Homo sapiens: one gene and its partners. The protein of the gene in region 3 purifies or fractionates together with the protein of the main gene of each other region. This does not show direct contact. Each region holds a gene or a part of one and is shown on either strand. Other genes may lie near its edges.

Region 1 (7,000 bases), on a different chromosome or scaffold from region 3:
GTTCTTCGCGGTTGTAAGTGAAAAAAATTCTAATTTCTATAAGACAGAAATTAGCTTGAGCAAAAAGGAACAATGTTTCTGGCTTAGGTTAGTGGGAATATAAGAGATACAGCTGGACCCAGGGGATACCATTTCTTAGAGAGGCTCCATCTCTCACTACAGTGGGCACCAGGTACCCACAGCCCCAGCCTCCCTGCACAGTGACTTCCAAGGAAGGGCAGTCACCTGTGTCTGCGGTAGCAGAACAGTTTCTAGTGGAAATGCTGGTTAATCTGATTGTGGTCACGTGCACGTTTCTGAAGCAATCCCCTGGCCAGGGATAAGGTGTTCTGACTGGCTAGGCCTAGGCAGGCCAGCTCTACCCAAACCACATGGAAATACATTTCCCCATGGAAGGCAGGGGGGTGTTCCCAGGAATGGGGCTGAAGGCTGGATCCCAATACCCTAGCTGGTGGGGGTGCCCGTCTCCTCCCTCCTCAAAGCCCCCAGGGCAGGTGCTGTGAACTAAGCCCTTGCCTACCTTAGCTATTTCTTTGTTTTTTTTTTTTGTTTTTTTGTTTTGTTTTTGAGATGGAGTCTCGCTCTGTCACCCAGGCTGGAGTGCAGTGGCGCGATCTCGGCTCACTGCAAGCTCCGCCTCCTGGGTTCACGCCATTCTCCTGCCTCCGCCTCCCGAGTAGCTGGGACTACAGGCGCCTACCACTAGGCCCGGCTAATTTTTTGTATTTTTAGTAGAGACAGGGTTTCTCTGTGTTAGCCAGGATGGTCTTGATCTCCTGACCTTGTGATCTGCCCGCCTTGGCCTCCCAAAGTGCTGGGATTACAGGTGCAAGCCACCATGCCCGGCCCGCGTTGGCCGTTTCTGGGCAGCCTCAGACGTGACACTGGCACAAGGTGTCTGCCTGTTTGATGACCATGTTCTCTCCCCACCCCCTTTCTTCATTTGTTGTGTTTTTCTCTCACAGAGATCAAAATGCACATTGAAAAATAGAGCCAGGCTGGCATGGTGGCTCACACCTATAATCCCAGCACTTTGGGAGGCTGAGGTGGGGGGATTGCTTGAGTTTAGGAGTTCAAGACCAGCCCGTCATGAGACCTGTGTCTCTGTAAACTATAAAAAAATTAGCCGGCCGGGCGCGGTAGCTCACGCCTGTAATCCCAGCACTTTGGGAGGCTGAGGCGGGTGGATCATGAGGTCAGGAGATCGAGACCATCATGGCTAACACGGTGAAACCCCGTCTCTACTAAAAAATACAAAAAATTAGCCGGGCGTGGTGGCAGGCGCCTGTAGTCCCAGCTACTTGGGAGGCTGAGGCAGGAGAATGGCCTGAACCCAGGAGGCGGAGCTTGCAGTAAGCCAAGATCGCGCCACTGCACTCCAGCCTGGGCGACAGAGCGAGACTCCGTCTCAAAAAAAAAAAAAAAAAAAAAAAAAAAGAAATTAGCCAGGCCTGGTGGCATGCACTTGTAGTCCTGGCTACTTAGGAGGCTGAGGTGGGAGGATTGCTCGAGCCCAGGAGGTAGAGGCTGCAGTAAGCCTTGATCATGCCACTGCACTCCAGCCTGGAGCAAGCTGCTTTAAAGTCTGATTTTGTTGCTTGCAGCAGTATTAAGAAGATTTTACTGAGGACAGTAAATGTCCCTAAATCCTAAAATCTAAAACCTGGTACTCTCACTGTGTGGCTGATGTGCCTTTTTTGACTACAAAAAAATTTTTTTTTCTGATTTTAAAAATAATTCGCTCATTATATAACGTTTTGAAAATACAAGGACACAGACACATGAGAAGATAAAAATCACCCATAATCCCATTACCCAGAGATAAACACTGTTTACATTTTGACCTAGTTCTTCTTGTGATCCTTTCTGGATTTATACAATCTTTAAAAATAAAAATCGGAATCATGCTACATGACAACACGAACACTTTCTGTCTCTAAGCAGCCCTCCCCAGCAGAGCTCTTACAGGGCTTTATCAGTGGACATGTGTCCCCTAAAATTTATGAAAACTTGTGTATTTGCATATTTTATAGAGAGTCCTTATTTTCGCTGAGTGAGACACTTTTTTTGGTTTTTTTTTGAGAGGGAGTCTCGCTCCGTTGCCCAGGCTGGAGTGCAGTGGCGCAATCTTGGCTCACTGCAACCTCCGTCTCCCAGTTCAAGCAATTCTCCCGCCTCAGCCTCCTAAGTAGCTGGGATTACAGGTGCCTGCCACAACGCCTGGATAATTTTTTTGTATTTTTAGTAGAGACAGGGTTTCACCATGTTGGCCAGACTGGTCTTGAACTCCTGACCTCAGTGATCCGCCTGCCTTGGCCTCCCAAAGTGCTGGGATTACAGGCGTGAGCCACCATGCCCAGCCAGGGTTTTACATGTATTTGGCTTTTCTTTTTTCTTTTTTTTTTTTTTTTTTTTTTTTTTTTTTGAGACAGTGTCTCACTCTGTCACCCAGGCTGGAGCGTAGTGGTGTGATCACAGCTCAATGCAGCCTCAGAACTCCTGAGCTCAAGGAACCCTCCTCCCAAAGTGCTGGGATTACAGGCGTGAACCAGCGGTATGCCCAGCCTTGGTTTAAGAAGCTGCCTACATAAAGGATACACTCTGGCCAGTGATAGCACAGCCCTTGTCATTGACATTTGTTTGCTTTTTAATTTTCTTATATCTTTCAACATGTAGAAGTTTTAAATTTTTATGCAATCGGATCTATCAGTTTTTTCCTTTATGATTTCTGGCTTTGATGTTATATGTTGCAATGATCTTTCCCAACCCAAGATTAAATAGTTGCTCTCCCCTTGTAAAATAAGTATTATTTTATTTATTTATTTATTTATTTTCTGAGACGGAGTCTTGCTCTTTTGCCCAGGCTAGAGTGCAGTGGCGCGATCTTGGCTCACTGCAACCTCCGCCTCCTGGGTTCAAGCAATTCTCCTGCCTCAGCCTCCCGAGTAGCTGGGATTACAGGCGCGTGCCACCACACCCGGCTAATTTTTTTTTTTTTTTTGTATTCTTAGTAGAGATGGGGTTTCACCATGTTGGTCAGGCTGGTCTTGAACTCTTGACCTTATGATGTGCCTGCCTTGGCCTCCCAAAGTGCTGGGATTACAGGCGTGAGCCACCGTGCCCGGCCCTATTTTATTTTATTTTTTGAGACCGGGTCTCTCTCTGTCACCCAGGCTGGAGGGCAATGGTGATCTCGGCTCACTGCAACCTTAACCTCCTGGGCTCAAGGAATTCTCCCACCTCAACTTTCCAAGTAACTAGGACTATAGGTGCACACCACCATGCCTGACTAATTTTATTTTATATAGAGACAAGATCTCACTATGTTGCCTAGGCTGGTCTTGGACTTCTAGGCTCAAGCGATCCTCCTGCCTCAGCCTCCCAAAGTGCTGGGATTATAGGCATGAGCCACTGCGACTGGCCCCCTTTTTATTTATTTATTATTTATTTTTGAGACAGCGTCTTGTGTTGCCCCAGCTGGAGTGCAGTGGCAGTCATGGTTCACTGCAGCCTCGACCTCCTGGGCTCAAGCAATCCTCCCACCTCAGCTTCTGAGCAGCTAGGACTACAGGCATGTGCCACCAAACCCAGCTAATGTTTTTTATGTTTTGTAGAGATGGGGTCTTGCTGTGTTGCTCAGGTTGGTCTCAAACTCCTGGGCTCAAGCAGTCCTTCTGCCTTGAGGACTGGGATTACAGGTGTGAGCCACTATGCCCGGCCTCCCTTTTTAAAGTATATGGTTTTTATTTTTATGCCTGAATCTCTGGTAGTTCAGCTAGAATTCATTTTCAAGTAAGGTAGAAGGTGGAAGCAGAAGGCGTTTCTTCTCCAAGTAGACAACAAATTGTTCTGACATAATTTGTTGTATAATCTATGCTTTTCAATACCAATTTATCAGAAGCAGAATTCTTTTTTTTGAGATGGGGGTCTCACCCTGTCACCCAGGTTGGAGTGCAGTGGCGCTATCTTGGTTCACTGCAACTTCTGCCTCCCAGGCTCAAGCCATCCTCCCACCCCAGCCTCCTGAGTACCTGGGACCACAGGTGCATGAGCCACCATGCCTGGCTAATTTTTTGTATTTTTGCTAGAGATGGGGTTTCCCCATGTTGCCCAGGCTGGCGAAGCTGAATTCTTACCAATATTTGAACCTGTTTAGGACTTTCCATTCTTTCCCACTGATACACTGTCAGGATGTACATCACACTACACAGTTTTATCTATTGTAGCTTGTGGTTTTCATTTTAAAGGTTGGTATCCCCAGTGCTTCATTCCCCTTCCCCCTAAAGTTTCCTGGGTTATTTCTGCTTAAGTACTCATCCAGATGAACCTCAGAACCATTTTGTTAAGCTTCCCTAAGAGATCCTGTGGGAGTTGCTATTGGAATGGATTACACTTATGGAGCGCTCTCAGACAGCTGCTGTCTTTCTGGCGTCACATTGTACTTGCTTTGACTGTTGTCATTCAGGGAGCCTCCACCAAGGCGCTGGTGCAACACCTGCCAGCTCTACTACATGGGGGACCTGATCCAACACCGCAGGACACAGGACCACAAGGTAGGAGGGCCTGCACGCTGCAGAGGCACCCGCACTGCCGTCTGCAAGTGGAGTCCAGACAACACAGAGCCCCAGTTGGAAAGTAAACGTTCCTCTTTGCCCCTGCACACCCATAACCCACAATGCAGTTTCTGGAGGAGTCAGTCTTGTTTCTTCTTCGGGCTTCAGGTTCCCCATCTGTCCAGTGTAGGCCAGGCCCCATCTCACCTGCCATTCAGCCACGGGGCTCACAGGGGTTATTTGGGCAGCTGCCCTCTCTCTCGTCTTCTCTCTGTGTCTGTCCTGTCTCTGTGTTGCCATCTGCCATCCTATCTCTCAGCCACCCACACCACGAAGAGATGTGTTTGCCCACGTTCCAGTGCAGGGGTGGAGCACAGCCCGGCTTGTTACAGATATGGTGGGCCTGCCCGGGGGAGGTGAGCTCTTGCTGGGCCCTGCCTGGGTGCTAGTCAGGGGGCTTGCAGCTGGGGACACTGCTTGGTTGGCCTGCCTTTTTCCAGATTGCCAAACAATCCTTGCGACCCTTCTGCACCGTTTGCAACCGCTACTTCAAAACCCCTCGCAAGTTTGTGGAGCACGTGAAGTCCCAGGGGCATAAGGACAAAGCCAAGGAGGTAACCTGAGCTCCCTCAGAGGACATGGGCCCAGAGAGGTACAGAGCCTTGGCCAAGGCTGTGTAGCAAGTTGAGGTTTATCCCAGCCCAAACTCACAGCGGGTCTGGAGGGATTGGGACTCTCAGGGGAGGGGTGGGGTGGGTAGGGCATGGCCCCCTGGCTGTTCAGAGCTGACCTGAGCTCCTTGCCTACTCCCTGGGCAGCTGAAGTCGCTTGAGAAAGAAATTGCTGGCCAAGATGAGGACCACTTCATTACAGTGGACGCTGTGGGTTGCTTCGAGGGTGATGAAGAAGAGGAAGAGGATGATGAGGATGAAGAAGAGATCGAGGTTGAGGAGGAACTCTGCAAGCAGGTGCTGGGGGGAGGGTGTGGGAGGCGGGCTTGGTGCTGGATTCCCAGCCCAGGACAGACCTCATCCCACCTCCCGGAGGCCAGACACTGGGCTGGCATCTGTGGGCACTAATGCATGCCACAACTGATTACTGTCAACTGCCTTCTGCATGACTATGTAATTATGCATGATGACTAGAGAGTGGCAGTTAAAATATGCAAAGCCTGACTGAAATTTGGACCTGTGTGGAGGAAGGGAAAGGGAACAGCATCAGTAAAGGCACGGAGGTGGGAAACTATGTAGTGTGCAAAGGAAAAGTCAGATGATGGTGATGATAATGGAGAGACTGACAGCAGCAGACATCTTTTTGAGCACTTAGTGTGTTCCAGGTGTGTGTACCAAGCACTATCCTGGCTGAATCTCATCAGATTGGATGGCAGGAAGTAAAACTTCAGAGTCCATGTTTCCAATGCCGCAGCTACCCTGTCTCTCATGAATGAGGAGCTGGAGGAGCTTGGATTCGTTGCAGTTTTTTTTTTTTTTTCTTTTTTTTTTTCAAGACGGAGTCTCGCTCTGTCGCCCAGGCTAGAGTACAATGGTGCGATCTCAGCTCACTGAAACCTCCACCTCCTGGGTTCATGCGATTCTCATGCCTCAGCCTCCCAAGTAGCTGGGATCACAGGTGCCCACCACCACGCCCGGCTAATTTTTGTATTTTTAGTAGAGACGGGGTTTCACCATATTGGCCAGGCTGGTCTCGAACTCCTGACCTCAGGTGATCCACCCACCTCGGCCTACCAAAGTGCTGGGATTACAGGCGTGAGCCACCATGCCCAGCCAGATTCTTTGCAGTTTAACACGTTTCCAGAGAGTGTGTTCTAGGTCAGGCCCTGGTGCTGGAAGCAGGGACCCATGAGGGCCAAGGCCTGGTCCTTGCCCTCAAAGGCTGACCCAGTTATAGTCCAGGGTGGTGAGGGGCCAGCTGGGGCTGCTCATAGCCTCTGGCAGCCAAAGTGGGGTATTGAGGGGCTGGGGAGGAAGCGTTGTGGTGGGGGGGCCTGCAGTCCTAGGCAGGGTAGTATGAGGCCCAGCTTCATTGCTCAGTAGTCACATCATCTCAGGCAAGCCACTTGGCCTCTCTGAGCCTCAGTTGCCTCTGCTCAGAAGTAACAACCTGAACTTGGACTATCAGGGAAGCCCAGGGCCCACAGCTTGGTCCTAGGAAGGGCTTAGCAAACGGGGGTGGTTGTCCTTCTTGGAAGCCACATTTGTTTGCCTGGTGAGTGGTGGAGGGCACTGCTAGGCCTGCTAGGGCTGACACGGCCAGAGTCAGATGACCTCATCTCACATCCAGCAGGTGAAATGCAGTCTTTGATCCCTTGAAACCCACCCTCTAGGACCAAGGTCACTGCAGTATTGGATAGGACCTCAGGGAGTTAGCAGGGGGCTCATGGTTAAGAGTGTGAACTACGGCTTAGACCTACAGGGTTCCCTGCCCAG
Region 2 (6,871 bases), on a different chromosome or scaffold from region 3:
AGTTTGGGTGTTTCTTAAAGTTAGATATATACCTACCATATGATCTAGCCATTCCACTCCTAGGTATGAACCCCAAAAATGGAAATGAATGCCCATACAAAGACACGTACACAAATATTCACAGCAGCTTTATTTGTAAGCCAAAAACTGGAAACCCAAATGGATAAACAAATTGTGATATATCTACATCATGAAATGTCATTCACTAAGAAAAAGAATGAACTATTAATACGTGTGGTAACATGGATGAATCTCAAAATAATTATGCTGAATCGAAGAAACTATACAAAAAGAAACAGTACTTACTGTATCATTCTATTTAGATAATATCCTACAAAATGCAACCCATCTTCAGTGACAGAAAGCAGATTAATGGTTGCTGGGGAGGGAATGAAGTACAAAGTCACATGAGGAAATTTTGAGGTGATGAATATGCTCATTATCTTGATTGTGATAATGGTTTACAGGTGTATACATATGTAGAAACTCATAATTGTTACTTTAAAGTTATGTGCAGTTTCCTGTATGTCAATTAGACCTTCATTTAATGTTTCTTATAGCTTTAAGAAAAACCTGGGTCAAAAGAGCAAGAGTCAGTGATATTCTAAGTTCCATTAATGAAAACCAAATTATTTGGAATGATAATCCCTCTTCTTAATTCAGTCAACAATACTTGGGCACCTAATATTGCTGGGCACAATCAAGACACTGTTATTATAACAAGAATGAGCTAAGACCACATGGACGATGTCAAATTGAAGCAGAGAACTTAAGAAGGCAAGCCAAAAAAAAAAAAAAAATACAGGGGAAAAGCACTCTAGGGCAGAGGCAACAGTTAGTTCAAACGGATCACGAGGTCAGGAGTTCGAGACCAGCCTGGCCGATATGGTGAAACCCCATCTCTACTAAAAATACAAAAATTAGGCGGGCATTGTGGTGGGCGCCTGTAATCCCAGCTATTCAGGAGGCTGAGGCAGGAGAATTGCTTGAAACCGTAAGGCGGAGGTTGCGGTGAGCCAAAATCACGCCACTGCACTCTAGCCTGGATGAAAGAGCAAAACAAAAAAAAGTGACCTCTTACTTGGTTGAGCCTCTCATCACCAACTAACTCTCTTGTGCCCTCTACCGCTCAGGTGATCTCATTTCAATGCAGTTCAACTCAGAAAATAAAGGGAAACATTCCCAGATTTTAGTAATCGACATCACCCTGCTCTATTCTATCATCAAGCCCTATTCTATTCTTGGCCCTGTGACCAGCATACAGGACACAGAGGTCACAGTCTGGTGGGGAACACAGACTTTCATGCCATTATTGGCATGACAAGAAACATTCCTGGAACAGGAATGACTTTGAGCCAGGCGCTCTGCCAAGCACATTGCATACATGAACTTGTAGTCCTTCTGACAGCCATTACAAATGGATCTGCATTTACAGAAGAGGATTCAGACTCACAAACATGATTGGTTTAAGGTTACAATTTAATAAACATGGAACATGGATTCTGAACTAAGATCTGTCCCCACTCCAAAGCCAGTTCTTTCTTTCCTACTACACTATACCAGAATAAACCAAGTGGTGTGGAACACCAAAATGGGAGCATCTAAATCTAATTTGAATGTGTGTAATTGTTGTGTCTGGGAAGACTTTACATAGGAGAGTATTTCCGATTTGTGTCAAAAAGGGTGGTCCAGGCATCAAGAGCAGAGGTAAACAGGGACACAAACTTGGGATCTATTCAGAGAACAGAAGGTTGGTGGGATGTGGGGGAAGAGAGGCAGAAAATAAGGCTAGAATCAGATTGCACAGGGTCTTGAAGGCCATCCTAAAGAAGATGACCTCAAACCAAAGTTCAAGGATTCCCATCCTGGGCCATGTGTACTGAGGAGTCCCCTAAGGTGATCAGGGTATAAGAAACCACAGGTAAATGTGGTATATTGCCTGGAATGTCAATTTTACTCAAAGGCTTGGGGGAGAAAAGGCAATCTTCTGTTATCCTATGAAAGATGTATTATGGGGAAATGAATGTAAAATCCTATGAATTTAAAAAATAAAACTGGGATTTCAGACATTATTGGCTGCCTTCCAATAAATAAGTGGTTGGAAATAGTCCATTCTTTGCTGCCATTGGGGATAGCTTAATAATGGAGCCATTTGGAAAGCATTGTTATAGGCGATGGGAAGCCATGGATTTAGCTCCATTGAGAATTCAAAAGTAGGGCTGGATGGAATTCAAAGATGAATGGGAAGTCAGCCGGGTGTGGTGGCTCACGCCTGTAATCCCAGCACTTTGGGAGGCCGAGGCCAGCGGACCACCTGAGGTCAGGAGTTCAAGACCAGCCTGGCCAATATAGTGAAACCCTGTCTCTACTAAAAATACAAAAAAAATTAGCCGGGCGTGGTGGTGGGCACCTGTAAGCCCAGCTACTCGGGAGGCTGAGGCAAGAGAATCGCTTGAACCTGGGAGGCGGAGGTTGCAGTAAGCTGAGACCGCGCTATTGCACTTCAGCCTGGGCAACAAGAACGAAACTCCGTCTCAAAAAAAAAAAAAAAAAAGACGAATAGGAAGTGGCTGTCTTAGGAGAACTTTCCATCTAAGCTTTATGGAACTGATGATTCTTAGCAGGAACAGGAGCAGGAAAACAAAGCAAAATGTAGGTAAATTTCCTCTCCTCCTCCCCATCTCCTTGACATGTTCCTTTTCTACCTCATTCATTCTTTTTCGCTCTTGTCGCCCAGGCTGGAATGCAATGGCACAATTTCGGCTCACTGCAACCTCCACCTCCCAGGTTAAAGCAATTCTCCTGCCTGAGCCTCCCAAAGAGCTAGGATTACAGGTGTGCTCCCTGTAATTTTGTATTTTTAGTAGAGACCCCTGCTAATTTTGTATTGTTAGTAGAGACAGAGTTTCACCAGGTTGGCCAGGCTGGTCTCGAACTCTTGACCTCAGGTGATCCACCCACCTCGGCCTCCCAAAGTGCTGGGATTACAGGCGTGAACCACCGCGCCCGGCCTCATTCATTCTTTTATTTTTTTAAAAAAAATTATTATTGCATACCAACTCCCTCACTTACTGTGTGACCTTGGACAAACTACTTAATTTCTCTGTACTTTAGTTTTCTTATCTGTAGAATGGGGATAATAATAATACCTACCCACAGTGTCACTGTGAGTGTTTTTACAGTGACATGATATATAATGAGAATTAAATGAGTTAATTCATATAAAGCATTTAGAGCCTGGAACAAAGTTCAGCACTGTTTGAGTACTAGGTGTTATAACAGTGACGTTGCTACACCCTTCACTGCTACTGTGTGCCAGTCAACATCTCCCATAGCCATTCATTGCTTAGGTAATTCATGTTGGTGGCCAAGACAGGTCTGGGAAGAAGACAGATGAATCAGACTGCTCACTGCACTTTGTCCAGCTACACCTGGCACATATAGAAGCTCCTCTAAATGCTTGCTGAATGGATAAGCGAATGTCTTCCTATTGAACTCCAAGTTCTTTGAAGGCAGGGACCATATTCCTAGCTGTCATATCCCTAGAACAATGCACTGGTGAGGCACACAGTAGGCGCTTAGGGATTATACATAGATAAATGACTGCAGGTGGAAAATCACTAAGGCTACAAAGCGAGCATAGGTAAGGTGCTGCAGAGAGACAGCCCCCAGTTTCAGGAAGGCGGTAGCCCTGGAAGCGTGGCTGCCAGCGCCCTTAACGGCGCGATGGCTGCTGGGAAGCACAGGCTCGCTTGGCTCGCCCCGGGATCCCGGGAGAGCGCCGCGGTTGGCGTCGGCGTCAGCCCCACGCCCCGCCCCGCCCCCTCCGCCGGCTCACGTGACCGTCTTTGGGCCGGCGCGAACCATGGCCGGCATGGTGGACTTCCAGGATGAGGAGCAGGTCAAGTCCTTTTTGGAGAACATGGAGGTGGAGTGCAACTACCACTGCTACCACGAGAAGGACCCGGACGGTGAGCGGCTCCAGCGCAGCCCGGCGACGCGTCGGGGAGGGACGTGCCCGGAGAGGTCTGGTCTGCGACCTCTGAGAGGCTGGAGAAGGAATCACGTGGCGGGCGGGGGACGGGGTCTGTGGATCGCGGTGACCGCGTGTGTTGGGAAGGGCGATGTGTCCCGGGAAGACCGAGCCAGGAGGCCGGGGCGGGTAGGAAGAGACGTGCTGGGGCTTTTGGGTTAGGGACTGGGGATCCATCGGTGAACAGATGAAACTCCCTGCCCTCGTGGAGCTTCCAAGCTAGTGCGGGGAGTCGGGCAATAAGCCTCAGGTAATTCATGAAATCGTGTTCGAAAGTAGTAAGTACCGGCCGGGAGCCGTGGCTCACGCCTATAATCCCAGCACTTTGGGAGGCTGAGGCGGGTGGATCACGAGGTCAGGAGATCGAAACCATCCTGGCTAACACGGTGAAACCCTGTCTCTACTAAAAATACAAAAAATTAGCCGGGCGTGGTGGCAGGCGCCTGTATTCCCAGCTACTCGGGAGGCTGAGGCAGGAGAGTGGTGTGAACCCGGGAGGCGGAGCTTGCAGTGAGCAGAGATCGCGCCACTGCACTCCAGCCTGGGCGACAGAGCGAGACTCCGTCTCAAAAAAAATAAATAAAAAGAAAGTAGTAAGTGCCGTGGAAAAAAGACTGGGTGAAGGGTGTCAGGAGGGCAGGAGGGCAGTTTTAAATTGAGTGATCAGGGAAGATCACTGAGAAAGTGGCAATTGAATAAAGCCTTGAAGAAGGTAAGGGAGTGAACCATGCAGTTCTTACCATAGGTAACAGCTGGCGAAGACGCCCTGAATCACAAATGTGTCCTGTGTGTTGTGTGAACATTGAATTGACTTAAGAGTATAGGTGGATGGTGGTGACCAGAGGGGTCCACCCAGAGCAGCTAATACCTTTGGGTGGTTTTCTTCTTCTTGCTTTATTTTTATTTTTTGTATTTTCTTTCTTTTTTGAGATAGTATGTCACTACGTTGTCCAGGCTGGTCGCAACTCCTGGGCTCAAGTGATCCTCCCGCCTTTGATTACAGGCATGAACCACTGCACACTGCCTACTTTTTAATTTTTTTGTTTTTTTGAGACTGAGTCTCACTCTGTCACCCAGGCTGGAGTACAATGGCTCGATCTCAGCTCACTGCAACCTTTGCCTCCTGGGTTAAAGCAATTCTCCTGCCTCAGCCTCCCGAGTAGCTGGGATTACAGGCACCCACCACCAGGCCTGGCTAATTTTTGTATTTTCGTAGAGACAGGGTTTCACCATGTTGGCCAGGCTGGTCTCGAACTCCTGACCTCAAGCAATCCATCTGCCTTGGCCTCCCAAAGTGCTGGGATTACAGGTGTGAGCCACCGTGCCCAGCCTTTTTTTTTTTTTTCTTTCAAATAAAGGACTGGTGTGGTGGCACAAGCCTGTAATCCTAGCTCTTTGGGAGGCTGAGGTGAGGTGGGAGGATCACTTGAGGCCAGGAGTTCAAGACCAGCCTGGGCAATATGATGAAACCCTGTCACTACTAAAAAAAAAAAGAAAAGAAAAAAAGTGGCACTGGCCCTACCTTCTAATAGCTTGCAGTTTAGTCAGTTTAGTTTGCAGAAATGACATAGCTATTCCTTGAGGCTAATCCGTAACATAGACCATAACACAACCATATACATATCATAACATAGTCATGACACAGAGTTGCTCTGCAGTATGATGGCTTGAAAAGAACCTGGGGTTGGGCCGGGCACAGTGGCTCACGCCTGTAATCCCAGCACTTTGGGAGGCTGAGGTGGGCAGATCACCTGAGGACAGGAGTTCAAGACCAGCCTGACCAATATGATTAAACTGTCTCTACTAAAAATACAAAAATTAGCCGGACGTGGTGGCATGCGCCTGTAATCCCAGCTACTCGGGAGGCTGAGACAGGAGAATGGCTTGAACCTGGGAGGCGGAGGTTGCAGTGAGCTGAGATCGCGCCATCACACTCCAGCCTGGGCAACAAGAGTGAAACAACGTCTCAAAAAAAAGAACCTGGGGTTGTTCTTTGAGAGCTGGTCCATGTCCTAAGTATAGAAAGAACTTAGAGGAATTGGGGTCACTAAGGAACAGGGTGGTTAGGGAAGACTTTGAGGGGAGGTCTGGAGGGCTGGGCAAGTGTTGATTAAATGGAGGAGAGGGTGGGAGAAGAAAGTGCTATCTTTTGGAAGGTTGAAGTCAGGATTTAGTACGTTTGAAGCGGGAGTCTGGCCCACAGTATGTCAGGGCTTGAATGCCAGGGTAAGGAATATAGACTTTGCTCTGTAGGCAATGGAGAGCAAAACATGTCTGAGAAGCAAGTTCTTGGAATTGGGAAGGGTGGATATATCAAAAGGACTGGCTGCAGCACTTTACGAGACCTGAGAAGAGGCTATAGTTACCGTAGCGACTGGTGTAGTAGTTCCTTGCATGTCCCACTTTCTTACCTGGATAACTGAAGTCGCCTTCTAACCTGTCCCTCTCTTTGCACTTTACTCCCTTAAAATCCATTTCTACTCGCAGATAAACTGATATTTTAATTTCAATTTTGTTATGTTAAATATTAGATTTTAAAATAACCTATTTGTTATCAATGCCCAATTATATACCCTCACATAATTAAATTCCTCCATACTCAGGCATATATGAACATATATACCAGAGTAACGTTTTTGTTGGGGGGTGGGGTTGTTTGTTTGGTTTTGGTGGCTTTTTGGTTGTTTGTTTTCTGAGACAGGGTATTACTCTGTCGCCCAGGCTGGAGTGCAGTGGTGCAATCTCAGCTCACTGCAACCTCTGCCTCCCAGGTTCAAGTACTTCTCCTGCCCCAGCCTCCCAGGTAGCTGGGATTACAGGCGTGTTCCACCACGCCTG
Region 3 (7,988 bases):
CCACTCTAACCAGGAGAACATAACACACCAGTGGCACTGGTTCAGCCTTGGCAACTATTCTTTTATTGAACATCAGTAACAGAAAGATGCTTGATTTAGGAGGAAGCTTTCCCTCCCTCCCTCCCCCATTGCACCCCGGAACTCAGCAAAGGTGAGCCAGCCACAGAGCATAACACTGTGGCTGGGACACATGTCCATGTGTGTTTCACATACGTGGGCATCTGTGCCACAAGGGTCATGTGGCACCACAGTTCATCAGCTGTGTTTCCCCTTCCTGCCCTGCTGCAGCGCCACAGGTTGGAGGAAAAGCCTGCCTGTGAGCAGGGTCCCGGCAGGGCCCACCCACCCAACAGTGGAGATCGGGCCTCAGAGCTGGGCAGTCATGGGAGTTCAGGGCCTGGCTCGCCTCGGCAGCCTGGTCTTAAAGAGGGACTTGCCCGAGGCCTCGATGTAAGTGACAGTCATCTCTTTGGAGCTGATCTCCACATAGGCAAAGCCACCCAGTGAGTCTTCAGTCCCATAGTGGAAGCGCAGATAGCCGTTGGGGACCTTGCGCTGGTGCCGCTTTGAGGGGTCCATGAAATTCCCAGCCCCACTCAGCACGTAGCCCACGCCATTCTCATCTTGCAGGTACTGAGGATGGAGGACAAGGGGTCAGTGGAGACCCAGCTTTGAGCAGAGCCCTGCCTAAGGTCCAGGGCTCGATCTGGCCCTAACCACAGAGTCACCTTGAGGTATGTAACCCCTCCTGGCTTCAATTTCCTGACTTTTAGGAGTGTATTAATCCTATTTCATAGGTAGAGCACTTAGTAAGAAATTGGTGGCCAGGTGTGGTGGCTCATGCCTGTAATCCCAGCACTTTGGGAGGCTGAGGGGGTGGATTGCTTGAGCCCAGGAATTTGAGACCAGCCTGGGCAACATAGTGAGACCTTGCCTCTACAAAAAAAATGCGCAAGGGCCAGGTGCAGTGGCTCATGCCTATAATCCCAGCACTTTGGGAGGCCGAGGCGGGCAGATCACTTGAGGTCAGAAGTTCGAGATCAGCCTGGCCAACATGGTGAAACCCCGTCTCTACTAAAATATAAAAATTAGCAAGGTTTGGTGGCCCATGCTTGTAATCCCAGCTACTTGGGAGGCTGAGACAGGAGAATTGCTTGAACCCAGGAGGCGGAGGTTGCAGTGAGTTGAGATCGTGCCACTGCACTCCCTCTCAAAAAAAAAAAAAAAAGCAAAAATTAGCTGCATGTGGTGGCCCATGCCTGTAGTGTCAGCTACTCTGGAGGCTGAAGTGGGAGGTTCACCTGAGCCCGGGAGATTGAAGCTGCAGTAAGCCCCGATTGCACCACTGCACTCCAGCCTGGGTGAAAAACAATGAAACCTTGTCTCCAAAAAAAAAAAAAAAAAAGAGCTTAAAAAAGAAAGAAAGAAAGAAATTGGCAATTCGAAGATATTATTCTGGCTTTGGAGTGTTTTCCTGGTTAGACAGCAAGATTTGAGGGACAGTCTAGACATTCTGAAGGCCACAGGAGACCCTCAAACAGCAGGAGGACCCCAGCCATGTGGACATCAGCTGGGATGGGGACCCCCCTCACCCAGCTCCCACCCCACCCACAGGGCCCTCACCTGCAGATTGTGATCGTGGCCGCACAGGTAGGCAGTGACCCCGTATGTGGCCAGCAGTGGCCGTAGCTGCTTGACCAGGCAGTGGGTAGGCCCGTGCTCGGCTATGGACCACACGGGGTAGTGGCCAGCCACCAGCACGTAGTCCTCCCTGGCCGCCGCCAGCTGTTTCTTGAGCCAGGACAGCTGTGTGCGGGCCAGCTTCACGTCTCGGGGCCTCTCAGGCTGCTGGCTGAGGAAGTCATCTGAGTTGCCACATAGTGTCACTGTGTCCAGCATAAAAATGGCCACAGACACATTGGTCTGTGGGATCTTGAAGTGCAGGCGGTAGAAAGGGCTGGGGAAGTTCCTGTGGAGGGGATAGAGGTCGTGGGTGCACATCTTGGGCGCAGAAGTCCCAGGGTCAGCTCAAGCCACAGGGCCCCTGTGTCCCTGCTATGTGAGGATCTCGGAAGGCAGGGCTGAGGGTGGCTCACCAGCGCTTGGAGATCTTAGAGTATGCAATCTGGGCAGAGACATTGCCAAGGTGGTCATGGTTTCCGGCTAGCACGTACCAGGGCACTTTGCGAAGGGAGCGGTCAGAGAATACGTCCTCAAAGGTCTCCTGTAGCAAACAGATAGGGCAGGCCTCTTCCCTGGGGTCAGTGGCTATGCCGATCCTCCCACCAAGTCAGGATAAGGGAGACACTGAATGCTCCCGGCGCCCAAAGGTGCCCCATCACCTTCCCTCTGCCCTCACCAAAGGAAGGTCACTAGGTAAGGCGGCTTCTCCCCACTGCCCGCCCCCACCTCCTGCCCCACTCTGTTGGGCACAGACCTGGAACCTCTTGTCATTGATGTCTTGCACACCAGTGAAGTAAAAATTGTCCCCTAGAGACAGGATGAAGTCTGCACCCAGGATCTGCACAGTCCGAGCGATCTCCTTGGCATTGGCCATTTCCCGGGCCGTGTGGAATGGGGCATTGGGGACCCCTCCCCAGTCACCCACGGCTACAAAGCGCAGGGCAGGGGTGGCACCATCAGCCAGGGAGGGTAGCAACAAGGCTTGCAGGATGAGCAGCGCCGTCCACATGTCCATCTGGGAGAAGAGAGACAAGCATAGGTGGCCCGGGCTGTGACAAGGGCAGGGAGGCCTTGAGACCCCCGCCTGCCCTGAGATAGAGGGAGACTGCTTGCTGCAGGCTGCCCCTGCGGGAACCCCTTGGTGCCCTAATTCTCAGGACACACAAGCTGCACAAGGCTGCACAAGCTGGCTTAGGGAAGGGGGGCGCGGTCTGTGAGAGGGCGAGCTGTACCAAGATGGCCCTGCAGGCCCATTTCACCCTCCTTCCACCTAGCCTGCCCAGCACTCACCCAGGGGGAGACACAGGCCAGTCACCGGAGGCTCTGAGAGGCTGGTGGGCTCTAGAGTAGAACTGCCGGTCCCTGAGCCTTTATTCCCTGAGGAGGAAGTGGATCATTAGTGAGGATGATGCAGTTTCTCCGAGGGCTGTCCCGGGAGCCCTCCCCTTGGGTCATGTGAGCCCTGGACTTCCCTGGAGCAGGACACGGGATTGGGGTGGGGGTGGGAGGATCTGGGCACACGTGTGCAGCAGCCTCGGCCCACACAGCCTCCGGGTGGACCTGCAGGGGCCTGTTTGTGCTGTAGGCTTGACACGTCCAGGTATCTCTGTGTGTCTGTGTATCTCAGTGTGAGTGTGTGTGTGTGTGCACACTTGAGAGGCTGTGGCTGTGATTACCCAAGACACATCTCCTGCACCTTCTTTCTCTGAGTAAGGGCTTACCTGTGTGTGTCTGGGTGTGTCTTGCTTCCTGCGTGCAGCTGAGCATGCCTACCTGGGCCTCGGCTCTGTACCTGATGGTGTTGCTGCAGACATGTATGCTGAGCCTGCGAGGCCTGTGTGGCTTGTCTGCGATGCACGCCTGTGTTCTCACGTGGCACTGGGTGGGAATCCCTATGGATGGAGTTTTGTGTGTGTCCATGTGTGTGTGCCTGGGTTGCATCTCTAGGATGGGTTGCGTGTCTGGTGTGGGAGCTGTGTTTGACAACATCTGGGTGGGGGACTCCGCGTGTGTCCCCGTCCTCCCCCTGCCCTCTCTCCATCCCACACATAAACACCAACGGGCTTCCCTTTTCCAGGAAGTCCTGCCCACACCCTCCCCTCCCCCCAGACTCCCATTCCTGCAGGAGGAACCAGGCAGGAGGCAGCTAGCTGGTGATAGCGCGCGTGACCACAGACCTCTGACCCTCATAGTCTCAGCAGCTGTCTGCAGGCCCTCCACGGGACCGCAGCCTGGGAGGGCAGGAGGCCCTGCACCTGCGGCCGGTCTGACCTGCTCCTCACCTCCCTGCCTGCCTCCTCCGTGCTGGGCGCCGCCGCGACACGTCCCGCGGACATTCAGGAGTCCCTTCAGTCCCTGCGAGCGCGGACCCGGGAGAGAGCTCTCATTCAACGCTGAGGCCACTGGCTCACAGATCTCCCCGGGTCACCCTGCGAAGTGCTTGGTCCCCCCCATTCCCAGCCCTGCAGCAGCAACAAACGGGAAGGAAGTGGGTGACGAGGACAGGCAGAGACCCCTCCCACGGGGCCGCCCGCATCTCACCTGCCGTCGCGGGGCGGGCGTTGCGGCCGGTGCCCAGCTGCAGATCCGCAGGCGATCGCACTCCTGGCGGCCCCAGCTTTAAGCAGGCAGCGGCCGATCCGCCCTGCTCGAGGGCTCAGGGCTGACCCAGGTGAGCCCCGGCGGGGAGGGCGGGCGCCTCGGCCTCCCCGCCCCGGAACCCTGCACCGCCCAGAGCCGCCACGCCTCCCGGCTGTAGGCTCCGCATCTGTAAAATGGGCCGATGAACCCCAAGGGTCGGCTCAGACCCACGGACTGCAGCTGCAGCTGGGCTAGAAGGGGTGGCCAGGGGAGCCGATTTCATCCTTTTCCTTCCTCCACGCCAACCAGGAGCCTCCATCTGCCTGGGACCCTTTGGGGGCACCCATGGGCCCACAGCCGCAGAACCACAGCACTGGGTGGGGTTTCAGCCCTGGGGCCAAGCTCTTGTGAGGTCTGTCATCATCTTCTCCTGTTGTTTTGTTTTTTTGTTTGTTTGTTTGTTTGGTTTTTTTTTTTTTGAGACAGAGTCTCGCTCTTTCACCCAGGCCGGACTGCAGTGGCGCGATCTCGGCTCACTGCAAGCTCTGCCTCCCGGGTTCTCGCCATTCTCCTGCCTCAGCACCCCCGAGTAGCTGGGACTACGGGCGCCGCCACCGCGCCCGGCTAATTTTTTGTATTTTTTAGTAGAGACGGGGTTTCACCGTGTTAGCCAGGATGGTTTCGATCTCCTGACCTCGTGATCCACCCACCTTGGCCTTCCAAAGTGCTGGGATTACAGGCGTGAGCCACCGCGCCCGGCCTGTTTTTGTTTTTTTTTTTTTTGAGACAGTTTTATTCTGGTTGCCCAGGCTGGAGTGCAGTGGCGCAATCTTGGCTCACGCAACCTCCGCCTCCCGGGTACAAGCGATTCTCCTGCCTCAGCCTCCCTAGTAGCTGTGATTACAGGCACGCACCACCACGCCCGGCTAATTTTGTATTTTTAGTAGAGACGGGGTTTCTCCATGTTGGCCAGGCTGGTCTCCAATGCCCGATCTCAGGTGATCTGCCCACCTCAGCCTCCCAAAGTTCTGCGATTACAGGCGTGAGTCACCATGCCTGGCCAGTCTCCTGTTTTTTTAAAAACTTATTATTTAGCCGGTGTGGTGTCTCACACCTGTAATCCTGGCACTTTGGGAGGCCGAGGTGAGCGGATCACTTGAGGTCAGGTGTTCCAGACCAGCCTGGGCAACATGGCAAAACCTTGTCTCTACTAAAAAGACAAAAATTAGCTGGAGGTGCTCTCTTGAACCCAGGAGGCAGAGGTTGCAGTGAACTGAGATCATGCCACTGCACTCCAACCCAGGAGGAGGAGGTTGCACTGAGCCAATATCATGCCACTACATTCCAGCCTGGGCGACAGAGCAAGACTCTGTCCCCCCCAAAAAAAAAACAGAAAAAAAAAAAAAGAAAGAAATCTGAAGCAATTATGACCAAATGTTAACATCTGTTTCTTCACGTGGTGGGTACAGGCGTGTTTTGGAAGCTTCTATGCTTCCTGTATTTTGAGATCACACAAAATTATGTTTATTATCTTATTGTGCTACATGATCTTTGTAGAAAAGTTGGTAAATTCTGGAATGCACGAAGAAAAAGATTATAATAGCCAGTAATACCCCTGCCCAGAGAGACAGTATCCATTAATTTTTCTCTGCCTATGTTTGTCTTCGGAAAAATGGGATACTATTGGCACTATTTTATAACTTTTTAATTTGTATTAACACTTTCTATATTTTTTAAATTGAAAAAGCTGGCCAAGCATGGTGGCTCAGGCCTGTAAACCCAGCCAATGTGGGAGGATCGCTTGAGCCCGGGAGTTCAGGAACAGCCTGGGCATCGTGGCGAGACCACATTGCTACAAAAAAAAAAAAAAAAAAAAAAAAAATTAGCCAGGCATGGTGGTGCACACCTGTGGTTCCATCTACTCAGGAAGCTGAGGTGGAGGATCGCTTGAGCCTGGGAGTTTGAGGCTGCAATAAGCTACGAATGCACCACTGACCTTCAGCCTGGGCAACACAGCTAGACTCTTGTCTCAGAGAGAGAGAGAGAGAGAGAGAGAGAGCACAATGAAAAAAATAAACCTGATCTTGCACAGAGCATGTAATAAAACCTGTGCGTTCTTGGCTATCTCTCTCTGGTCTCCTCCAGGGTGCTGAATAAGCTCTTCTCTCTCCATTCACCCAGGAGAACTCTCTTCTGCTGATTTTCTGTGGAGCTAGATCAGGCTGTGACTCAGAATCTCCCTCCACCTCCACCCTTTCCTATTTTCCCAACACCAGTGTCAATCTCAGATGTCAACAACCCCACGAGTGAGTTCCTCCTGTTGCCAATACATCCAGGTCCTGTTCTCCGCTGCTGTCTCTACCCAATCCCTTCCCTTCCTTCCTCCTGCCAATCCTGCTTTCCCTGTTTCTTGCTCCTCTGACCTCCTCCGCATTGCTTGACTGTCTCAGATACACTCTGGCCTCAGGGTCTTGGCACTTTCTGTTCTCCCTGCCTGGAAGGGTCTTCCTTAGTCAGATACTGAGGTCACCCATTGTGTTCAAGTTCCTTTAATTTATCTGAAATGAGTCTGGGCGTGGTGGCTCACGCCTGTAATCCCAGCACTTTGGGAAGCCAAGCCGGGTGGATCACTTGAGGCCAGGAGTTCGAGACCAGCCTGGCCAACATGGTGAAACCCCATCTCTACTAAAAATACAGAAATTAGCTGGGCGTGGTGGCACAAACCTGTGGTCCCAGCTACTCAGGAGGTCGAGGCAGGAGAATTGCTTGAACCTGGGAGGCGGAGGTTGCAGTGAGCCAAGATCGTGCCACTGTACTCTAGCCTGGGTGACAGAGTGAGACTCTGTCTCAAAAAAAAAAAAAAAAAAAGAAAAAGATAATTTATCTGAAATTATCTGAAATGCACCACCCTGCCCCCATCATTGACTCTCCTGTTGCTGTAGTTTTCTCTGCAGCACTTACCAGTGCTTGAGAAAACCACCCACTCATTTATCTTGCTTTCAGTTTCTCTTGCTTTCAGTCTGTCTTCAGTTAATGAAAGCTTTTTTTTTCTTTCTTTTTTCTTTTTCTAAAACAGAGTCACCCAGGCTGGAGACCAGTGATGCGATCACGGCTCACTGCAGACTCGACCTTCTGGGCTCAGGGGATCCTCCCACACCCCTTGGCCTCCTGGGGATTGAGACTACAGGCACACACCACCACACCCAGCTAATTTTTGTATTTTTTGTAGAGAGAGGGATTTGTCACCTTGTCCAGGCTGCTCTTGAACTCCTGAGTTCAAGCAATCCTCCCAACTCAGCCCCTCAAAGTGCTGGGATTACAGGTGTGAACCACTGCCCCTGGCCTGTTTATTTAAAAAATTAACATTCATTCTCAGTTTATTGGCTAAGTTTAGAAGTAGTATCAGAATGTTTAAGAGAACTTACTGTTCTCCTTTTATTTGTATGTTTGCATTGTAGATTTTTAATAACTGATAAGGACTTCTCAAGGTGTTTGCTTGGTGGAGACATTTAAAAAGATTAAAGAATAGGCCAGGTGCAGTGGCTCATGCCTGTAATCCCAGCACTTTGGGAGGCCGAGGCGGGTGGATCAAGAGGTCAGGAGATCGAGACCATCCTGGCTAACATGGTGAAACCCCATCTCTACTATAAATACAAAAAATTACCTGGGTGTGGTGGCACGTGCCTGTAGTCCCAGCTACTCAGGAGGCTGAGGCAGGAGAATCG
Region 4 (7,842 bases), on a different chromosome or scaffold from region 3:
TCGTAGGAGGAAGGCCAAGCAACGTGACTATTACAGATCTATGGATTCACAGCACTGCTTTACTATTATTCCGTACTTATTTGCTTATATTTATAATATAGAAATAAAGAGGCAGCAACAGTTAGCCACTACATTAACCACTCTACCAAAGGTTACTTAAAAAACGGCCTTGCATTCTTACAACACTCTACAGTTAAGGATTATTTTCACATATATGACCTCATATAGTCCTCTCAACCCTGCGATGTTGGTAGTACCGACTATATTTCATAGATAAGAAACCAAGGCTCGGTACGCGATTTTTTCTCAGAGTCACCCAAGTCGAACCCAGACCTTCCGATTCCTAGTTTTATGCCTCGCATTTTGCATAGTTCTATTTCAGGCATAAATTGAATTGTTAAAGGGAAGGAACGGGTTAGGCAAAAAATAATCATGGTACCTGCAGCTGTGTGCTGCAAAAAATGGCTGAATTATGCTTCTTCCTTTTTCTTTCTCGCTCTCTCTGGAAAAAAAAATTACATTTCAAACAATTTAAGTAAACTCGAAGACAAACGAGGTCCCGGCGTCTACCAAATGTTTGACTCGGGTCCGTGCAGAGAGGGCCGGCGAATTCGTGCCTAGCTCGGGGCCGCGGGCGAAGCCCGGGCTCCGCAGGCCGGCGGCCAGGGGCGGCTACGTACCTCGGGGGGTCCTGTCCAGCCTCTAGTGGACGGCAGTCTGCATCAGGAAGAACCGGGCCAGCGGGCCGATGGGTGGGCGGTCGGGCGCCGGGACGGCACTCGGCAGGCTCCTCGGACGTCTACGAGCAGCCGCTCCCGGCACGAGCCGGGTCGCTCCGGCGGGGCACGAGAGTGCTCGCCTGCAGCCCCCTCTGGATAAGTCCTGGGAAAGAAGACAGCGCTGAGTCGAGAAACCAGACAGTCGGGCTCCGCACGAGGCGGCGCGGCGTCGGGGCCCGGACCGACCTTGCCAACGCCGGGGGCCTCGCAGCACCCGACGGGGCTCGGCGGGAGGGCCGACTGGGGCCGCGGGCGGGGAAAAGGGCTGGGGGGCAGCAGGCAGAGACAGAAGCACCAGCCGAGGAAGCGTCGAGGACGGCGTCTCTGGGCTTCTGCCCCGAAGCGCGCCGAGCCTCGGGATCACCCACGCCGGGGGTGGAGGAAGGCGGGAAAGGGGCGGGGAAGGGGCGGGGCGTGCGGGGCCACGAGCCGGGGGCCGCTCCGGGCCGCGCGCCCCCTGCGGGCCGCGGGAGCCGCCCGGGGCCCGCCCAGGGAGGCGGGGCTGGCCGGCAGGGGGCCCAGTGCGCTGTCGTCTTGACGCGGAAGGCCGCCACGCTGGGAGAGAGGGCGGAGGGTGGGAAGCCGTTGGGGGCGGGGAGCTGGCCCGGGAGGCCCCCCCCTCGGCCCCTGCTGGCGCCCCGAGGGGGCCAGCCCGTGGCCTGGCGGGTGTTTACCTTCCCCCTGGTCGAGCGCCAATGCCGCCATCTTTCAGCCCAAAACGCGTCACTTCCGGCGCCACGGGAGCGGGAGCGGGTGTGGGAACGGGGGGGAAGGGGGGGCGGGGAAGGCTGTCCCGCGCCCGCGGCGCCCCGCGTCCCGGCTGCCGGCCCGCCACGCCAGCGGTTTCCCACCGAGGAAAACAGGCGGCCGGGCGTCGCGGCCCTGGACTGGGCCCGACGCAGCTTCCCCCGCGGCGCCGCCGTCGGGGCTGAGGACACTCAGCTGTCCTCGTCCCCTTGCAGCGGTCTCTCTCCGCCTGCACGAGCGATGGGCCCTGAGCCACTGCGGTGCGCCCACCCTCGACAAGTTGAGGGCTAGGAAGCCAGGAAAGTGTCTTTTTGCATCTTGGCCACGGTGGGGGTGGGGGAATCGGGGACAACGTGGAGGGAGCTTTTCCATAGCTACCTGTTATAAAAGTGACTAGATCTGCGCCAAATGACATCATTTTTTGTAAGGCAACTTGCAGTGGACTATTGCGTCACTGTCCACTTGGCTTACTGCACAACAATTACACGTTTCAGAAATCGATTTCCCAAGGGTGGGAAAATTCATAAAAAATTGCATGTCTGCACCACCCGGAGATAATGCCGGATTTAAAAAAGCTGTCTCTACTTGCGTCAAAATAATCAAGAACGAACATTCAGAGGGCAGTGATTTTTGTTGTTCGTTTTTTATAGAATTCTAGCTAGTACTTTTTAAATATTACCTTTTCTTGACAAGAATATAAAACTAGACTATAGGACTGTTTTGTAAATTTATTATGGCATCTCTTTCTGGGAAAAGTGTAGATGACGGAAATACACAGTTGGAAGCCCGTGGATCTACAATTAACCTTAAATTAGGGCATCCATTGCCCATAGCAGATCCTAAACTGAGGTATTTCGGCTTCCCCCACCCCCACCCCCCGCCGCCATTTTCTCTCTAGACCAATATCCCGATGAACTTTCCGTGAGAGGTGTCGCTAAAAGCGATAATTATCTCTTTCTAGCAAACTTGAACATACCATCTTTCCCAAGAGGCCAAAATAGCACACGGTGTACTGTTTTGCTGAAGTAGACTACTTCGTGGGAGAGATAACACAATCACTTCAATCTTTTGGAAATACGCTTCCTTATTCCGATTTAAACTATAACAAGCTTTAAAAAAACTGTAAGACACTGAAATTCCCAAGTTGTTCACACTTTCTTTCCATCTTTTCCAATAGCTCCTTTAAGATATTTCTGTTCATTATTTAAAAATCCCTGCTTGCCATATTTGTATCTATTACTACATGACAAATTACCCCAGAATTTCACATTAAAACAAATTTTTAAAATTAAATCATAAAATAAACTTTAAAAATGCATACATTCCACTTCTGAATATTTAAATGTTCATGCATTATTCCCGAACATCTAAACGCTGAGTTTGGATTTTTGTACATTAACTAACATTTTAAGCTATACATTACTATGTGGCACTGACCTGTCTAAAGAGAGGCTTCTGTTCTTGATTCAAGCAAGAGTTGAAACGTTTCTGCGCTCTTTGTACCAGGTATAAATGTAGTGAGTGTATGTCATAAGCCATTGTGTGATCACCGTGCTTCCCGTCCCTCCTTATTTTGACATTGCAAGGTCTCGTGGAATTTCAAATGTGCTTTTTTGGATATTTATGTAGTTTTAAAACTGGGCTGTGTCTTTCAATCAATCTATACGTTTACTATATGAACCCCTCCCCAAGTTATCTTCAATCAATGATGCCTCTTTCACTCTTATTTCTTATTTTTATGTTATTATTATTATTTTTTTTTTGAGACAGTCTCACTCTCGGCCAGGCTGGAGGGCAGAGGCATGATCTCAGCTCACTGCAGCCTTGACCTCCCGGGCTCAAGCAATCCTTCCACCTCAGCCTCCCGAATAGCTAGGACCACAGACGTGCCCCACCATGCTCGGCTAACTTTTCTTTTCTTGTTTTTGTTTGTTTGTTTGTTTTGTTTTTGTTTGCTTGTTTTTTTCTGAGATGGAGTCTGTCGCTCAGGCTGGGGTGCAGTGGATCTCGGCTGACTGCAACCTCCGCCTCCCGGGTTCAAGCGATTATCCTGCCTCAGCCTCCCGAGTAGCTGGGATTACAGGCGCTCGCCACCGTGCCCAGCTAACTTTTGTATTTTTAGTAGAGACGGGGTTTCACTGTGTTGGCTAGGCTGGTCTCAAACCCCCGACCTCATGATCGCCCGCCTTGGCCTCCCAAAGTGCTGGGATTACAAGCGTGAGCCACTGCACTCCAGCTCAGGCAACAGAGCAAAAACACCGTCTCAAAAAAAAAAAAGAAAAGAAAATATATTTTAACTTTCCCCACCAATTTCTGGACTGTAATGGGAGTTGTTAAATACCTTGAGAGTATCCTTTCACACTGGTAGAGTCCCACAGAGGTAGATGGAAGCTGTCTTTTCTTAGCCCTCTAGCCTAAGTATTTGAGAATACACATTCCTCAATAGCTATTTATTTAGCAGCTAGCGAGGTCGGAAGCATGCTAGAAGCCTGGGCCTGGGAGTGCTGGTGGAGTTGGAATGAGGTTCTTCCCCAGGGGTTCTGAGGATTTAGGATACTGCATACCCTCCTCCTCCCTCCTGTTTTTGCTTTTTAAGAAATTGAGGCCAGGCGTGGTGGCTCACGCCTGTAATTCCAGCACTTTGGGAGGCCGAGGCGGAAGGATCATTAGAGGTCAGGAGTTGGAAACCAGCCTGACGAACATAGTGAAACCCCGTCTCTATTAAAAATACAAAAAATTAGCTGGCATGGTGGTGCGGGCCTGCGGTCCCAGCTACTCAGGAGGCTGAGGTAGGAGTATGGCTTGAGCCCAGGAGGCAGAGGTTGCAGTGAGTCGAGATTGCACCACTGCACTCCAGCCTGGACAACGGAACTAGACGCTGTCTCAAAAAAAAAAAAAAGAAAAGAAAAGTTGAGGCTTTTCAGAAATTCCCAGTCTGTGGTAGTTGTCTTGGTAATCACTTTTCTTTTTACTTTTTTTTTTTTTCTTTTTTTTGAGACAGAGTCTCCCTCTATCATCCAGGCTGGAGTGCAGTGGCGTGATTGGCTCACTGCAACCTCTGCCTCCCAGGTTCAAGTGATTCTCCTGCCTCAGCCTCCCAAGTAGCTGGGACTACAGGCACACACCACCACGCCCAGCTAAATTTTGTAACTTTAGTAGAGATGGGTTTTCCCATGTTGGCCAGGCTGGTCTCGAACTCCTGACCTCTAGTAATCCATCCACCTCAGCCTCCCAAAGTGTTGGGATTACAGGCGTGATCAACCGCACCCAGCCACCCCATGATCTTTCCACTGTACCATGTAATTATATTAACATAGTAAATGATCTTCACATAGTTGTATTTTTATTCCTACTTAATTCCACAAATTGTTGGTTTGCAATCTACTATACTATTTATTTATTCATTCCATAAGTATGTGTAAGTGCCTAGTACATGCCAAGTCTTGTTCTACCCACTGGGGATCCATCAGTGAATAAAACATATGAAAACTCTAGCCCTTGTACGGATTACATGTGTCAGGTAATAAAATAAATAAGCAAATTATGTGGCCTGTTAGAATGTGGTAAATGTGGCCGGGTGCGGTGGCTCACGCCTGTAATCCCAGCACTTTGAGAGGCTGAGGTGGGTGGATTACTTGAGGTCAGGAGTTCGAGACCAGCCTGGCCAACACGGGAAACCCCATCTCTACTAAAAATACGAAGAAATTAGCCAGGCGTGGTGGCACATGCCTGTAATCCCAGCTATTTGGGAGGTTGAAGCAGGAGAAGTGCTTGAACCCGGGAGACTGGGCGAAAGAGGGAGACTCTGCCTCAAAAAAAATATATATTATTTTCATAGAAGTTTTAATGACTTATGAAATTGTTTCTAATATAATCTTATGTGAAAATGCAGGACAAAAAAAAACTATAATTGCACTGATCACAGTAACACTGAACCCTCAGAGGTAGTTTTCTGTTGACTCCTTATTTTCCTGAGTATGGGTCACACTTTGCTGTTTCTTTGTACATCCTGTTTCTTTTAGATAATATGTTGTAGCAACTCTGGACTCTGTATTAACCCACTCCCAATCCAGGTGGTGGTAGAGTTTGCTATTTTTAGATTTGTTGTTTGTGTGGTGGTCAGCCTGGACTAATTCTGTGGCGTCTATTCCCCAAATCGGGATGTGATAAATGCTATGGAAAATAACAGAGCTGGGGAAGGGTGTTCCAGTTTTAACTGGGATGATCAAAGTAGGAGGTATCATTTGAGCCTTGCCTTCAATGAAATTAGGGACCAGAGTGTATAAAACCTGGTAGGCAATTGTAAGGTCTTTGGCCTGTGAGAAATTGGGAACCACTGGAAGCTTTGGTGAAGAGGACCAATATGATTTGACACTCAGGCTGCTATGTAAGTAACAGAATTTAGGTGGACTAGGGCAGAAGCAGGGAGATGGGTTAGGAGACTATTCCGATAATGGAATGGAATGGAATGGAATGGAATGGAGGCTACAGTGGAGATGGTGAGAAGTGCTTAGACTTTGCAAATATTCTGGAGGAAGAGCCAACAGGATTTCCTGGAGGTAGGGATAAAGGAAAAGAGAGGAGTCATGGATAACATCAAGGTTTTCTGTCCTGAGCAACTGGAAGGATGGAATTGTCATTTCCTGACATCGCAAAGACCTCAGGAGGATCAGTTTTGAAGGGAGTGGGGAGGAAGGAAAAGCTGCAAGGACTGGGCCCAGAGGTGTGCCTGGGCCAGGGAGCCATCCTGGAGAACAGAGGGAACTGGTTCCAGGAGATCAGACAAGAGTGTGGAATGCTACAAGCTAGAGAGAAAGTTACTGGAAGTTGCTAAACATTCACTATCAATAAAAGATGCAATGAATATTGCCATTTTAATGGAATATATTTACCTTGAAACATGGTGTAGACAATGCCCCCTTGTAGATGAAAACCTTAAAAAGAAAGTTATCATCTTTGTGCTCCTTATGAACCAATGAAAAATAACATTATGCTTCAGCTTCAGTTATGAGATTATCAAGGGGCTGAGTGTACAGCGAGGACTGGGCTTTGTGGCGCAGCAATGTGAGGGAGTCATCCGGGAGAAGATACAGGACTGTCAAGGAGACAGAGAAGGAGTAGCCAGTGAGATAAGAGTAAGACAAAGAGTGTGCTATGCTAAGCCAGATAGAAAAGTACTGTAATTGCTAAACATCCACTATCAATGAAAGATGAAACGAATGTCACCATTTTAACTAAATCTATTTACTGTGAAATGCAACGTAGACAGTGCCTCTTAGTAAATGAAAATGTTAAAAGGAGTAACATACCCCCTTTCCCAAAATTAATCATTAAAAAAAAGTTTTTTTAAGAGATGAGGTATCCCTCTGTAGCCCAGGTTGGAGTGCAATGGTGCGATCATAGTGATCATAGCTTACTGCAGCTTCGAACTCCTGAGCTCGAGGGATCCTCCTGTCTCAGTCTCCTGAGTAGCTCAAAATACAGGCTTGAGCCACTGTGCCCAGCAAAATTAATCACTTTTAAGTTCTTTATGAACCAATGAAAAATAACACTATACTTAGAAGCCTCAAGATACGAGCCACATATTTGTTTTTTTTTTTTTTTTGAGATGGAGTGTCGCTCTTGTTGCCCAGGCTGGAGTGCAATGGTGTAGTCTTGGCTCACTGCAACCTCCGCCTCCTGGGTTCAAGCGATTCTCTTGCCTCAGCCTCCCAAGTAGCTGGGATTACAGGCACCCACCACCACGCCCGGCTTATTTTTTGCATTTTTAGTAGAGACAGGGTTTCACCAGGTTGGCCAAGCTGGTCTCGAACTCCTGACCTCAGGTGATCCGCCCGCCTTGGCTTCCCAAACTGCTGGGATTACAGGCGTGAGCCACCGCACCCAGCCCAAGCTACATATTCTTAAGTACTGCATTTCAGTAGATGTGTACCCAAACATGCACACATTCTAAGTGTGAGTGCCAGAGTTGAGGTGAGTAGCAGGAATAAAGAGCTGCTACATGGTGTTGTATGACTAAAGAAGTGGAAAAAGAAAGAAAAAAAAACCTCCAGTAACTACTGTTGCCAGCAGCACAACTTCAGGGTTTGGGGACTGTGGTTAAGGATAGAGACAAGATTGAATGTAGGCTCTGAGGTTATTTATTGATTCTAAAACTAAGTTCTTAAAAAATGCAGTGATGGCCGGGTGCGGTGGCTGACGCCTGTAATCCCAGCAGTTTGGGAGGCCGAAGCAGGCGGATCATGAGGTCAGCAGTTCAAGACCAGCCTGGTCAACATGGTGAAACCCCGTCTCTATTAAAAATACAAAAATTAGC

What was found.
Region 1: the proteins of ACP5 (region 3) and CIZ1 purify together in Homo sapiens (affinity purification with mass spectrometry; 3 studies listed by BioGRID and IntAct, with this or other methods). This does not show direct contact.
Region 2: the proteins of ACP5 (region 3) and COA7 purify together in Homo sapiens (affinity purification with mass spectrometry; 2 studies listed by BioGRID and IntAct, with this or other methods). This does not show direct contact.
Region 4: the proteins of ACP5 (region 3) and KLHL15 purify together in Homo sapiens (affinity purification with mass spectrometry; 3 studies listed by BioGRID and IntAct, with this or other methods). This does not show direct contact.

Annotation. Positions count from the first base shown.
Region 1 is NC_000009.12:128,167,573-128,174,572, reverse strand, and holds part of CIZ1 (cip1-interacting zinc finger protein), read left to right. Parts: intron 1-4,465; coding exon 4,466-4,553; intron 4,554-4,872; coding exon of another isoform or gene 4,873-4,950; intron 4,951-5,053; coding exon 5,054-5,167; intron 5,168-5,371; coding exon 5,372-5,521; intron 5,522-7,000. UniProt on the Homo sapiens protein: May regulate the subcellular localization of CIP/WAF1.
Region 2 is NC_000001.11:52,695,321-52,702,191, reverse strand, and holds the start of COA7 (cytochrome c oxidase assembly factor 7), read left to right. Parts: upstream 1-3,844; 5' UTR 3,845-3,865; coding exon 3,866-3,971; intron 3,972-6,871. UniProt on the Homo sapiens protein: Required for assembly of mitochondrial respiratory chain complex I and complex IV.
Region 3 is NC_000019.10:11,574,620-11,582,607, forward strand, and holds ACP5 (tartrate-resistant acid phosphatase type 5 precursor), read right to left. Parts: upstream 3,027-7,988; 5' UTR 2,974-3,026; intron 2,699-2,973; coding exon 2,438-2,698; intron 2,225-2,437; coding exon 2,097-2,224; intron 1,970-2,096; coding exon 1,624-1,969; intron 735-1,623; exon of another isoform or gene 634-734; coding exon 391-633; 3' UTR 41-390; downstream 1-40. UniProt on the Homo sapiens protein: Involved in osteopontin/bone sialoprotein dephosphorylation. Its expression seems to increase in certain pathological states such as Gaucher and Hodgkin diseases, the hairy cell, the B-cell, and the T-cell leukemias.
Region 4 is NC_000023.11:24,024,177-24,032,018, forward strand, and holds the start of KLHL15 (kelch-like protein 15), read right to left. Parts: upstream 3,011-7,842; 5' UTR 2,964-3,010; intron 883-2,963; 5' UTR 681-882; intron 1-680. UniProt on the Homo sapiens protein: Substrate-specific adapter for CUL3 E3 ubiquitin-protein ligase complex.